Regions from separate parts of the Homo sapiens genome. Here region 1 is linked to region 2. The links come from fine-mapping of genetic effects on gene expression. A gene starts in region 2. The other region holds a variant in brackets. All regions are shown on one strand. Distances are from middle to middle. Region 1 overlaps LOC101926974 (a long non-coding RNA gene). Region 2 holds the start of MCFD2-AS1 (MCFD2 antisense RNA 1).

Region 1 (4,403 bases), 620 kb after region 2:
TGTGAAGGGATGAGGGGTGCCAAGAGCATGTACCTCAGCTTGGAGGCAATGGGTAGAAAGATGCATAGCTGGCACCAAGCCAGGTCCTTTTCTGGCTCCCAAGTCCACAGCACCTTGTTCCTTCTCCTTCCCCATATGTGTCCCCAACCCCTCCAACAGCTGACCTCTAGTCATCCCACAGAACATACTCAAGTTCTACCACTAAGGCTTCCACAGCTACTGTTATTGTCTTATTATTTTTTCTGATGAAGAGCCCTGGAGCCAGTCATACCTGAGTTCAAATCCCAGCTAGGCCACTTGCCAGTTGGCTGACCTTAGATAATTCACTTTCCTCATTGAGTCTTGGCTTCCATTTCTATAAAAATGATGCTATTTTCTTCTTTTTTTGGACAATTCTTCAATAATGAATATAACAGGCATTGAGTTAACATCCTTAAAATATAAAGAGTTCATCTAAAACAACAAGAAGTATACTAAGGGCCAGGTGTGGTGGCTAACGCCTGTAATCCCAGCACTTTGGGAGGTTGAGGCAGGCAGATTGCTTGAGCCCAGGAGTTCGAGACCCGCGTGGGCAACATAGCAAAATCCTGTCTCTAAACCCCAAAATTAGCCAGGTGTGGTGATAGTCCCAGCTACTCAGGAGGCTGAGGTGGGAGCATTATTTGAGCTCAAGTAGTGAAGGCTGCAGTGAGCCAAGCTCACACCACTACACTCCAGACTTAGCAACAGAGTGAGACCATGTCACAAAAAATTAAATAAATAAATAAATTTTGAAAAGAAATATAAGACAAAAACAATAAGTAGATAAGAGTCACAAACAGATAATTCCAAAAGATGAAATACATGTAGCTAATAACGTTTTAAGACATGTTTAACATCCCTAATAATAAAAGTGAAAATTAAAGAAATGAGGCACGTTTCACTTATGAAAAACTACTATAGTTTTTAATCTATAATAATCAGTATTGACAAGGGTGTGATAAGATGGACAACCTCCACTTGGTTATTAGGAATGCTTTTTGGAACACAATTTGGCAATATGTACCAACAGCTTTAACAATGCTCATGCATTTTGACCTAGTAATTTCGCTTCTAGGAATCTGTTTGAAGGATATAATCAGAGATGAGGTCAAAGATTAATATTCACAGATGTTCAGATGTTCATCACAGAGTTATTAACAGGAAATTTTTGGAAAAAAATCTAAATGGCCATGAGTAAAAGAATGTTTAAATTGGTTATAATGCATTCTTAAAGTGGAATTTTACAGCTAATAAAAATATTTTCATAGATTGATGATATAGTGATTACAATACAATGTTTGCTGATAAGCAGGAAATAACGTACATAATATATAATCTCAATTTTATGCTGCTATATTTATGCTTATATATTAGAAAATAGACTGAGAAACACCCCAAAAGGTTAATAATAGTAATTTGAAAGGTCATACATGACGTTTTCTTATATTTTCTAAGCTTTTCACAGTAAAGAAGCATTACTTTTAAAATGTGAAAATAAACTACTATTTAAAATCACAATAACACTGTTTGACCCAGTAATTCCTCTTCTTCAAATATGTTTAAAAAATCAGAAATTCAGTGAAACATGTTGGTATAAAGAGCCAAGACTCAATGGTGATTAAACCATTACTTATAATTTAAAAAATAGGAAAACAGGTATCTAGCAGTTGGAGAACAGCTAAGAAACTTGTTGTATCACCACATAATGGGACACTGTGAATGCACTAAAGATGTTTTTTAGTTAGAATGGCAATCATTAAAAAGTCAGGAAACAACAGGTGCTGGCGAGGATGTGGAGAAATAGGAACACTTTTACACTGTTGGTGGGACTGTAA[A/G]CTAGTTCAACCCTTGTGGAAGTCAGTGTGGCGATTCCTCAGGGATCTAGAACTAGAAATACCATTTGAGCCAGCCATCCCATTACTGGGTATATACCCAAAGGACTATAAATCATGCTGCTATAAAGACACATGCACACGTATGTTTATTGCGGCACTATTCACAATAGCAAAGACTTGGAACCAACCCAAATGTCCAACAACGATAGACTGGATTAAGAAAATGTGGCACATATACACCATGGAATACTATGCAGCCATAAAAAATGATGAGTTCATGTCATTTGTAGGGACATGGATGAAATTGGAAATCATCATTCTCAGTAAACTATCGCAAGAAGAAAAAACCAAACACCGCATATTCTCACTCATAGGTGGGAATTGAACAATGAGAACACATGGACACAGGAAGGGGACCATCACACTCTGGGGACTGTTGTGGGGTGGGGGGAGGGGGGAGGGATAGCTTTAGGAGATATACCTAATGCTAAATGACGAGTTAATGGGTGCAGCACACCAGCATGGCACATGTATACATATGTAACTAACCTGCACGTTGTGCACATGTACCCTAAAACTTAAAGCGTAATAATAATCAAATAAAAAAAATTTAAAAAAAAGAAAAAAAAAAGAAATTTTAATGACATGGAAAATTTTTGTTATAAAGGTCATTAAAAGAAGAACAGAAAATTGTATATACATATTTTAAATATATGTTTAAAATGAATTTTAAAACTAGGAATGCACACACTTAAATGCTAGCAATGATTTATCTTGGGCATGGGATTATATGTGATTTTTATTTTCTTCCATACACTTTTATATTCTTTTATATGCCATATCTATAATGACTATCAATACTTCATGAGCTTATTAAAAAAACAGAAAAAAGAACAATAGAGAAACGGTCTGAGAAGAAATGAACTTCTATATCGGAGAATGGAGCTAAGGACAGTTATCAAGATCGTTGAGAACATTAGATGATGAATGTGACCAGCACAGTGCCTGGCACATAACAGATGCTCAAATAAATGCAGGTTTGTTTCTCCCTCCCTCTTCTTTCCCGCACACATCTTTCTTGCTCTGAACCCTATGTGCCATTGACAGTCTGTCTCACTCTCCTTTACTCGAGTAACATTTCTCTTCCCAGCAGGTCTGTTGGCCCAGGAGGACTGAGCTAGCTCCTTCCTTCAGGGCATGGTGCCAGCTGGAGCTCAGGCAGCCTTGCTGACTAGTGATGGAGGAATAGGGACGACCCCTCCTTCCCTTCACCCTGACAACCCATATTCAGGGTTTCTTCTCAGGATGACATCTAGGGAGGTAAAGTTTGCACAGAGTGAAGGAGTGAGAGGGAGTTTCCTTGTAAATGGTTTTTTTCTCCTCTTTCTATCCCCCCAGTCTAGAGCTGGCAGAACATCCAGGGAAAGAAGGTAGGGAGATGGCTCCAAGGAAGGTTCCTATGCCAAGCATTTTGCCTTCACTGGTAACTGGCATCCCACCACTAAAGCTGAATGTTCTTTCTAGATACCTTTCACAATGCAGATTCCCTTTGGAGGACAAATATATTAATATGTACGTATTGATATGTATATATTTATCAGCTCCCCTTCAGAAGGCAAGTATGTGAGAGCCCCTGCATAAGGGAACTGAACAGGGAACTACTGAGAATGGCCATACCTGCAGATGGGGGTCTGGAATCTTCCATTAGTAAACCCATATTGAGGCTCCTACCCTGTGCCAGGCACTACTATATCACAGAAGATGCAGACCAATATGAGGCAAGGTCTGGTCCTCAGGTTTCTTACTCTGTAAATGGAGAACTAAGACAGACTTGTGAAAAATAACAGCAAAAACATATGGTAGCATAGAACTGCAGGACTGAAGGGACCTTAAAAGTTTTCAAGATTGACCATCCAATTGGTTATCAAATAACTGTTGTAGAGGTATATGCACAAAGGACACAGAGCTCAGACATGGCTTGAGCCAGGACTGTCTGGGAGTGCAGAAGGATTGTTAGGGCTGGACTGCCACAGAGGATTGGGAAAGGCTTTCAGGACGGGTAAAGCACAGAGCTGGGACATTTGAGGGACAGTGTGTAGACTGTTGGAAGGAGGCTGGTGAAGGGGAGAAGTAGGGAAAAGTACACACAAGAGAGTTGGGGTCAGTTTGCAAAGGACTAAGAATGCCAGGTTTGAGTGTCCAGACTTTGTCCTTTGGACAATGAGAGGCATCTGCTGCACATTTCCAAACAAAGAGGTGACTTTGAAAAGAGGTATCTGAAGGTGATTCTAAACATTGGCAGGAGACAGTAGGAACTGGTAGGGACTGGAGACAAGGTGGTGAGTCAGAGACATTCATGCCATCCAGATGAGATGCCAGGGGCATGGATTAGGACTGTGGAGGTGGGAATGGGAAGAAAAGGACCAGTGGCGAAGGACTTTCAAGGAAAGACTGGGCAGGCCTTGGGGGCTGAGTGGTGGCCAATCCACCAGCCCAGCACACTCTTTGTGTACCTTGATCTCAGCAGCTGAGGCGCCACTGCCCCAG
Region 2 (4,403 bases):
TTTAATTTGATAGCATTATTGAAAACATACCAGACCCAAGCAAAAAAAGTCTCCCCTGGCATTTTGAGAAGACACACTTTTTTCTGCCTTTTAAAAGGAAATTATCATTGCCTCCCTCCGTACCCTCTGAGACCCTCGGACCTTGCACTGACCCTTCTTCATCCAGAACTACCCCTCTGGATGGATCTAGTGAATGGGCTCCCAGTTGTTGGCAGCTGGGAGAGGGAGAGAAGCAGATCCTCAGATAGTGGAATCACCCCATCAAACAGACAAGGCTGGAACACCTTCCTTCTCCACAGCTGGCTGCTGTTAGTAACTATTCCATGCTGGCCTTTGTGGTCCTTGCCTGCCCTTCCTTATAAAAAATTCTCCTGATGGGAGAGTTTCCTGGGACATCAGGGACACAGCATGATGGGCCCTTCCCTGCATATGCCCTCTATCTCCCACACATGAGGCCTTGGCTTCTTGCAGCCTGCCTCAAGAATTCTTCAGAATGTATAAGGAACATCGCTGCACCCCAGTTTCCTTTTCTCTAAAATGGAGGTAAGTATATCCAGCAGAAGCAGCCTTATATGAAGAAAGAGCACAAGCTTTGGACTCAGGCATGCCTGAGTTGAAATCCTAGGCCTGTTTCTTAGCATTGAAGTTTCTATACTTCAGTTTCTCATCTAAAATATAACTATAATAACAGTTACCTGCAGAGGATTAACAGGATTAGCAAAATGAGAGAAAGTAGATAAAGCACCTAGTGCTGTGCCTGGCACAGAGTAGGTGCTAAATAAACAGTCATCTGTTCCCCAGCCTGGCTGAAGAGCCTGAGCCCCTTCCTCATTGCAAACTAGGGGATGGAGGGGCTTTGAAGAAATTGATGACTCTTTAGGGGCAAGGTTCAAAGGGGCTTCTCAGCTTCTTACATTCTTCCATATAAATGCTGAGTGAATGAATGGATGAATTAATGAGTGACTTCTCTCAAGGAGGAACTAAGGGTCACGGCAAGTACAATGAACAACACAAAAGTATTGACATAGGAGCCAGACCAAAGGGGTTTGTGGTTCACCTCGTCTGACAGGTGACTTCTCTGTCTCTGAAGAAAGTGAGCCAGAGAAACTCTCAGCTTGGAAATACCAAGCAAAAGAGAGCGGGAATGAGAGACCATGGTGAAAACAGAACAGCAATGAACTACATGTGATCACAGCAGCCAGGTTCGCACGCCCTAGGAATGAGGTTAAATGTTCTTTTTCTAGAGAAACTGAACTGCCCCCAGGGAAAGGATCTTCAAGTCCTGACATTTAGGAGTTCCTATGAAAAATCTGGCTGGCCTCCTCCCCCAGCAGAGAAGCCACCAAACTGAGCCCTTCCATGCCCCGATAGCATCAGATCAGCTTTCTAGTGTCTCACACTTAAATCTAAATGGATTCTTTAGAATCATAAGACAGCTGAAGGAAAGCATTTTTTGTTTGTTTGGTTTTTTTTTTTAGAGTCTAACTGTCGCTCAGGCTGGAGTGCAATGGCACAATCTCGGCTCACTGCAACCTCCGTCTCCCGGGTTCAAGCGATTCTCCTGCCTCAGTCTCCCGAGTAGCTGGTATTACAGGCGCCTGCCACCATGCCCAGCTAATTTTTGTATTTTTAGTAGAGACGGGTTTTCACTGTGTTGGCCAGGCTGGTCTCAAACTCCTGACCTCATGATCCGCTCACCTCGGCCTCCCAAAGTGCTGGGATTACAAGCGTGAGGCACCGCACCCAGCCTGAAGGAAAGCTTTAAGGTGAAGCAGAAATCAAAACAAACAGAAAGGAAACATCAAGGAGATAATGCAGGGACTAGAAGATAACTTTTAAAAATTATAATCAGTATCCTCAGAGAAGTAGGACTTCATCACATCCATGAACAACATTCAGATGCCAATAAAACAAGGAACAACTGGAAAAGAGAATCTAAAAATAAAAATGATGATACCCCTCCCCCATGCTTTTTCTTAAAAGGGTTAAACCATAAGCTCAGGGAAATCTCCCAGAAAGCAGAACAGAAAGACAAATAGATAAGTGATAACAGAGAATGGATGAGAAAATAAGAGGATCTATCGTGGACATTTAATATCCAATCAATAGGAGTTATTAGGAAGAAAAGACAAAATGCGATACGGGGAGGAGAGTAACCAAAACCAACTCAACCTGGAATGAGAAACAAACGGGTCCAGAAGGTGGGAACGTAATAATTTTTTTGCCAAATAATGAACTGGCTTCAGACCAGACCAAGTCTAGAGCTCACCGTGCCACCACGCTCTGCTCTCCTCCCCATCTTCAGATCTGCATTCTCCGGCTCCGCGTAGGGGCAAGATGGCGGCGCCCGCTCCAGAGCATGCGCCTCAGCTTCAGGAAAAAGCCTATCACGGCACACCTATGCCACACACCTGTGCCACGGCTGACCTAGAAGGCTCTATGGCATAGTGCTAAGAGAATGAACTCTGGCGTCAGACTGTCTTGGTATCAGTCCTGGTTTTGCCACTTATGAGCTCTGTCGCTTGGGCATGCTACTTAGTGCCTTTGTGCCTCAGTTTCCTCATATGACAATAGGGATAATAATGATGGTATCACCTCATCTGGTCACTGTGAGGGTTAATTGAGTTAACATGGTAAAATCCTAACAACGAAGCCGGGATAGAGGAAGCACTTTTTCAGTGACAGCCAGCATTATTATTCCCAGTCCACCCCTGGACAAATCACTGAGGCCAGGGCCATGCCACATGGGCCAGTTGGCTCAGGCCTTGGTTATGTGCTGCATCCTGGGTGAGGGGCTGGAGCCCCACTGGTAATAAAATGATTGACAGTGGGGAGGAGGCATTTCAGAGAAGGAAATCCAGGTACAATTACCGGAAGAGGCGGGTGGGGAGCTGCTGCACGGGATGCCATAGCATGATTGGCAATGGACTATTTGCTTCTTTCAGAGAAATCTCCTTCCTCGCCGCTATCTGGTATTCTGGCTCCATGGCTCTGCTGAGGCCATTATTATACTGTATTGGAAGGCTCGGGCCTTCAGCAGAACAGTCCAGAGGGCCGTGGGCACCGTATTCTCGCCTGTGCCCCCACCATCAACAAGTGGGGAAGCTGTGTTCCCTATTCTTTCTGACAGCACATCATCATCCAGTTTTGCCCCCTGACTGCCGGGAATCACTCAAACTTACCTCCCAGGAACAAAGACTGGTTTTCAGACACGATCCCATCTAAAACCATTTTAGGAAAACAAAAATTATTCAGCTATGCAAGGGCCATTTGAGCCGATCTACACCTCTCTACTTCTTAACCCAAAGCATCTGCACTGGGGTTGCTTCCCCTCACCCCAGGCATTCCTTAGTAGGGAGGAGTGCCTGCTTTGCAGCCAGGAGACTGCCAGATCCCTTCAGGGGGATGCTTCCTGAGCAAGTGGGAAGGTCTGCCTACAAAAATTAAGTCACCCACCCAAGTCCTATAGCCAGGAAGAGAGAATAGAAATATGCCAAGAAGGCGCATGAGAGATGAGATGGGAGGCAAACGGGAAGGTCAGCCATGTTCTGGTCTGTGCCCAGGATTCGATGGCACCAGAGTGCTGAATTGCAGATGGGAACAGGACTGGGAAAGTCTACAGGATATTGTGTGAGGATGAACATTTAGCAGGGGAACTCAAGGGAGGGGAGTTTCTATGTCAAATGTAATTGATTTTTACAGTAATGCTCTTTAAAATGTATAAATGTGACATCTTTTCCCACTCTGTGCTTGACTACACAACTGTAATTCACTCTGTCACTCTTGGTGCTACAGGAATAAAATGCTGGTGTTTTATTATAAAAAAAACTTTCATTAAAGATCATTTGAAAATACGGAATAGAGGAGGGATGAAAATACAATCCAATTGTCCAATATAGCCATTGTATTACGGTCTATCTCCTTTTGATGTTTTTTTCCTGTTTCTATTTTGTTTGTTTCTTACATACTTGTAATCGTGATATTTATACAATTGTATGTTTGTTTGTTTTATCAAAGGCATGCTCATGCATAAAACCTTTTCTATTTTTACCATTATTTTTTGAGGAAATTGAGTTACTGAGGTTTGAGCAATTTTAAACCTTGGTCAATATTGCTAAATTGCTGTCCCAAAGAGTTACTCTAATTAAAACTTCATTCACATTGTATATAAAGAGGCTATTTCCTTTAGCTAGACTCATAGCATATACCAACAAGTGTTTCCCTAAACATAGAGCAACGAGATATTAGTGCTTTTAAATTTCTGGTCACATTAGTGCTGTATACACCAGCACTATATATATCTACCATTTTATTCAGTTGTGTGTTTGTTTATTTGTTGATTCATTCATTGGATATTTATTGTGTGTTTGCCATGTAACTTCTTTCGTCTAGGCTCTGGAGTT

What was found. PIP is the estimated chance that this variant, and not a neighbour inherited with it, causes the effect. A credible set is the group of variants that fine-mapping cannot tell apart.
Region 1: its variant is the best candidate, but not a certain one, in a credible set for the expression of MCFD2-AS1 in minor salivary gland (GTEx, PIP 0.78).

Annotation. Positions count from the first base shown.
Region 1 is chr2:46,277,797-46,282,199 of GRCh38, reverse strand. The region is part of intron 2 of LOC101926974 (a long non-coding RNA gene); the gene reads right to left. Among named protein-coding and RNA genes, the nearest start is that of EPAS1, 17 kb to the left of the region's middle. The variant A/G (reference allele first, on the strand shown) is at 1,857.
Region 2 is chr2:46,897,181-46,901,583 of GRCh38, reverse strand. It overlaps MCFD2-AS1 (MCFD2 antisense RNA 1), which reads right to left and starts at 2,309. Exons shown (of 2, transcript NR_199007.1): 1 at 2,270-2,309.